Linked DNA regions of Homo sapiens. The protein of the gene in region 1 purifies or fractionates together with the protein of each later gene. This does not show direct contact. Each region holds a gene or a part of one and is shown on either strand. Other genes may lie near its edges. The genes, in order: CXCR5 and GNA11.

What was found.
Region 2: the proteins of CXCR5 (region 1) and GNA11 purify together in Homo sapiens (affinity purification with western blotting; one study listed by BioGRID). This does not show direct contact.

Annotation. Positions count from the first base shown.
Region 1 is NC_000011.10:118,893,812-118,896,089, reverse strand, and holds part of CXCR5 (C-X-C chemokine receptor type 5), read right to left. Parts: coding exon 1,427-2,278; 3' UTR 1-1,426. UniProt on the Homo sapiens protein: Cytokine receptor that binds to B-lymphocyte chemoattractant (BLC). Involved in B-cell migration into B-cell follicles of spleen and Peyer patches but not into those of mesenteric or peripheral lymph nodes.
Region 2 is NC_000019.10:3,121,431-3,124,499, forward strand, and holds the end of GNA11 (guanine nucleotide-binding protein subunit alpha-11), read left to right. Parts: 3' UTR 1-2,569; downstream 2,570-3,069. UniProt on the Homo sapiens protein: Guanine nucleotide-binding proteins (G proteins) function as transducers downstream of G protein-coupled receptors (GPCRs) in numerous signaling cascades.

The DNA.
Region 1 (2,278 bases):
CAGCTTGCGAGGAGATACTCAGAGAAAAAAGGGACGTCTTAGGGCTTCCTCGTTGTCCTGCCGTGAAGACACTCTCACGTGAGCCACAGCTGTTATTTCCCCAGTGGGGCCTCCCAAGGAGCTTGGCTGCTTGGCTTGAGTGGGACAAGGGCAGGGGTCCCTGACTCCCCACCTGATCAAAGGCTGGGGAGGTGGTAGGGAGCACCCAGAACTGCCGGACGGGCCTCCCACACCCCAGGTGAGCAAACAAGCACGGAGCAGCTTCCTGCGGTTCCATCTGAGTGACATCCTCACGGGGGCAGGGCACGGCTTCCTGGGGCCTGGGGACTTCCCTGCCTCAGTGTGTTTCTTACACTTCCCTGCCTAAGGTGATGCCACGGAGGGGATGGTTGAGATGACTCCCACGGGCCCCTTCCAGTCCACCTTTCTCCGTTCCGACTCTGAGTTTCCTCGGGTCTATAGCTTATGGGAAGGGAGTGAGGAGGGGACAAGCCAGCCTCCTTCCCCATCAATGCCCACAACCTCCCATCCCCTGGACCCAGCCACCCTAGGAGTTCTCCACCCCACCCCATCTCGCCTGGCGGAGGGGACCGCCGGGTTTGATTGATCCATCTCCCTCCTTGGGGTTCGGGAAGAAAGCTCTTTTCTTCCCTCTGTCGGGTTTCTTTCTTGCTTCTCGGCCTTCACGCTTCCTCAGGTCACTGGCTGGCCTCCAAGGGCACCTAGAGTCAGCCCTGCCTGCAGACCACCCAGGATCCGGTGACATGGGGTGGACCCAGCGCTGTTTCGGTCAGAGCCAGGGGCAGCTACCTGAACTCAACCAGTCTGAGCTTCCTGCTTGGTCAAGATGACTGCAGGCTTGGGGGCCTGGCAGAATGTCTGTGTTTTTAGGGACTGAGTTGTCCGAAGGCCACACTCTGCTGCCAGCTGGCCTTTCCTCAGCCTTAACCTCCACTCATCCCCTGGTGCTCAGCTTCTGGCTTTGTTTGACAGGTGGGCAGGAGGAGAGAGGGGAAGCTGTGGAGGTCAGCAGCCCCTAAGCTGATGGAGTGTGTTCTGGGAGGGGCAGGCGCTCTCCGTTGGCAAGGGCAGAAGTAGAAGTTGTTTCTTGAGCATTGGATGATTAGGATGGGAGGTGCGTGAGGTTCTCTCAGCCCAGGGGGGTGCAGATGGGTAAGGACAGCCTTCACTGTGCCTTTGAGCTGCTTTCCGCTCCCTGGGCTCCAGCCTAGCCCCAGGGCCGGCAGAAGAGCTGGCAGGGATGTTCTAGAAATGGGGGTTGGTTCCTCTAGCTACCCCAAATGAGGATACTCCTAGGACACTCTTAGCCACGGTGAGCCCTTAGGATCCCAGCTCCTGTTGGAAGGAGCATCCAGCATCACTGCCTGCCCCAAGGAAAAGCAGCAATAAAAGGGGACACTGGGACCTAGAACGTGGTGAGAGAGGTGGCATTCTCTGACTCAGAGAGACTGCTCCTGCGCCAGCTAGGGAAGAGCTGGCACAGGGAGGCAGGGCCGGTACAGCCCAGCTTCGTCAGGAGCCGCGACAGGTCACTGCGGAACTTCACGCCGGCGAAAGTGTAGAGCATGGGGTTGAGGCAGCAGTGGGCCAGGCCCAGGAACTCACACATGGTGATGGCCACGGGGAGAGAGCCATTCAGCTTGCAGGTATTGTCCACGGCCTTCAGCCTCGCCAGGGTGTCCAGGAAGATGACGATGTGGTAGGGTGACCAGCAGAGGAAGAAGATGCTTGTCACCAGGATGGCCACCCTGACTGCCTTCTGCCGCTGAGGGCGCCGCTGGGCCTGGCGCAACCTGTGCACTACCCCCACGTAGCACCAGCCCATCACCAGCATGGGCAGCAGGAATCCCGCCACATGGTAGAGGAATCGGGAGGTGAACCAGGCATGCGTTTCTGCTTGGTTCTCTTGGGAGAAGGTGCAACGTGGCAGGGAGTTGTTGTGATGGCCTTGGCTGACTTTGGCGAAGAGAATCTCTGGCAAGGCAAGGAGGAAGCCCACCAGCCAGATGGTCCCACAGGTGATGTGGATGGAGAGGAGGCGGCGGTGGCGGTAGGCATGGACGGCGTGGACAATGGCCAGGTAGCGGTCCACGGCGATGCAGGCCAGGAGCAGGCTGCTGCAGTAGAAGTTGACTTTGTGCAGGGCAATCACAGTTTTGCAGAGGAAGGTCCCCAGGACCCAGCCCACAGAGCCCTCGGCCACGGCAAAGGGCAAGATGAAGACCAGCAGGAGGTCGGCCACGGCCAGGTGGAACAG
Region 2 (3,069 bases), on another chromosome or scaffold:
TTGACTTATGGCTCGCTTTTTTCTAAAAAAAAAAAAAAAAGAAAGAAAGAAAAAAAGCAACGAAACATAAAACACACAAGCGCCCCGTGCCCCCAGTGACTCTGGGCCTCACAGAGCCCCCGCCAGCCAGCATGGGGCCCCGCCCTGCAGCCAGTCACGCGCCCCCACACCGCAGCCCCCCGTGGCTGTCCTTCCAACCCCACGTGCTTTTTCTTTCTCCTGCCCGCTTCTTTTCTTCATCACAAAAGGCGTGGAGACTCGGAGACGGACGTTTTTCCCCTTTTTTAAGTTATTGACGCCCAGCGCGCCTCGCCTCTTCACCCATCAACGCTGTGCTTTGCCCACTGGACTCCTGAAGAGGGGGTGGGGGGCTCCCTCGGTCGCCCACCCTGGGAAGTGCCTAACCTTTTATTTTATTTTATTTTTTTGAGGAAAAAGAACGCCTGACTCACAGGTTGAAGAAACACCCTGGGCCCTCTCTCATGGCCGGGTTCCCCGTCCCTCTGCAGAGGCTGGGAAGGGTCCCCGGGCTGGAGCCACGGGGGCTTCTCTGGGCTGTGCCTCCGGGGCCAACACTGGCTGCTTGGGGCTGCCCGGGGACTCCAGAGGGCTGCACGGCCACCCTGCCCTGGCTAGAGCGCACCCCACCGGAGCCCACGTGGGCTGGGCGGCTGGAGGGATGGTCCCCCGGTGACACTGGGAGAAAGGCCACTTGGATGGGGGCGTTTCTGTTTTGTTCCGCTTTGTGATGTCACCAATTTGGAAACAGCGAGGGTGGGTGGGGACTTTTACAGAATATTCTCAGGTGTGTACCCGAGAGGCAGAGAGAGGGACGTGGCCGGCAGCTCTGTGCGTGGCCTTGTCCCAAGCACTTGCGCCCGCCCCCGAGCGCCGCCCCCGGGGAGCGGGAAGCCAGCACTCGCACTTTGGCCAGGGGCGCGTGGAAGGTGGTGGCAGGCACCGGCCTGGGCAGCTTCCAGGCCTGGCTGGCCACGACCACGGCCCGAGGGGGAGCCCGCCAGGCCACGCCGCACTGAGCCACAGCCCCGGGGGCCGCCTCCCGGGGCCCCTTGAGGCACTGAGGCACCGAGACTGGTTCTCCCCGAGAGACTCGGAAGGTGGGGAACGAGGGGACTGTGTTTGGGGAGGTGGCTTTTTCGTCTGCTGTTGACTGAACACTACAGCGCCCTGTGGTTCCGGGCTTCGCACAGCTGTCCCAGGGATGGATCGCCTGTGCTGCCTTCGCCCGCCGCCACACCGGGACCCTGCACGGCTGCTTCTGGCCTCGACAGATGACAAAAGAAACAGCCCCAAAATACGACCACTCCAACCAGCAGTTCCCGCCTGCCTGCCCGCCACTGTCAGGCCTGCCCTGGCCTCCTCGTCCGCAGGGCTGTCTGCTGGCTTCTGGGGGCAGAAGAGCGGGGAGCCCCGTGGAAGGGTCAGGGGAGACCAGGTCAGGGCAGCTACATTTCTGGTGATCAGCCCCATGGGGAGACGGGGCTGGCGGGATACCCCCCCCCCGGCTTCCCCACACCACTTCTGTCTCACCCGGAAGCGTCCTTTTTTTGTGCCAGGTGTCTACCTAAGAGGGTTGGTGCCAGAAGCCCCCCATGGCGAGTGCTGGGGCCCGGCGGTGCCCTGGGGGAGCAGATGGGGCCACCCCTGGCAGGGCCGCTACAACCTTTTCCAGCAGCGGAGCCCTCTGGGGGGCCTGTGCTTGTGGCATCTCTGAGGGCCTAGATTGCACAAGGTGACCTGGCCGTGGCCTGAGGGTGGAGTCGCCCAGCACGCAGGCCGGGGCGCTGCGGGGCTAAGTATTAGGCCTTCCCAGGGAGGGGGCGTGCCAAGCATCCCAGAGCCGGGCTGGGACCGCCAAAACGTCGTGGCCTGGATCCTCTGGGTCTGAGTGCCTGATCCCCTGCCCCCCAAAAAAGCAGAGGTAGGTGTTGCAGGCCCAGGGCAGGGGTGCCTGCCCCAGGAGAGTCCCAGGCAGTGGTTCTCGTGCCAGTGGCACCCAGGGGCAAGGACAGCCAACCCCCACCCTTGCCACGTGTGGGGCCACGTGGGCATGTGGGGTGTGTGTTTTTACCTTGGTGAATCTCACCTGCCAACGATTTCTCGTGAGTGCCGACCACCTTCTCCGACCATGTTACGCCCGGGCGGCAGCAGCCCCCGGCCACTGCAAACCCATGCCCTGGGTCCCCCGGCTCCCCCAGGGAGGCATCCCCGTGCCAATGTCCCCCAGTGGTGGCAGCAGATCCTGTGGCCGGCCTGGCGGACGGGACCCAGTGATACTTGTATATTACACAGTCCTGATTTCAGACAATTTCAACCTTAATCTATTTAAAAAAGAATATTCTATACAAGCTGTTTTTAAGCCTTTTACCATTTGAAATGCATGTGTTGTGCGCGTTGGGGATGGGAGGAGGGGCTGAGGAGCGGCTCAGTGTCACCTCCCACAGCCACCGGCCCTGACCCTTAATCCAGACACCGATGGAAGTCGACTTTTCATATCTTTCTCCTGAAATGAACTCTGTTTTAAATTGGAATAAATTTTGTTCCTAAATGCTGGCGGCCCCCTTCTGGTTTATTTCCTGTTGTCCTTCAAAGGGGGCTGGGGGGAAGTGTGCAGAGGCCTGGCCCCCAGGAGCCCTGGAGTTACCTAGGGCATTGCCTGACCTCAGTGGGGCCGCCTGGGTGCCTCCGCACGGTGTCCCGGGGCCCCTCCCCTGTCATCTTGTTTGACCCTTCACTTCAAGTTCATTTCACTAGCACCAGGCCAGAGCAACCTGCTTGGGAAATGCCACCTTGTTTGGGGGCTGGGGACAAGGGAGTGAGACGGGGAGGAGCCCAGGTCCCAGGCCAGCCTGCCCCTCACCTTCCAGGGCACCTGTGGGGACATCATGCCCTCCGGGCCTCCGTTTCTGTAAGCTGCGGATGTGGGACCTCTGCAGCCTTCCTTCAGTTATTTTTTCCTTTTGAAAAAAAATTGTAAAATACAGATAAATTTCTAAGTGCACAGCTCAGCGGCATTAAGTGTATCCACACGGTTGTGCAGCCATCACC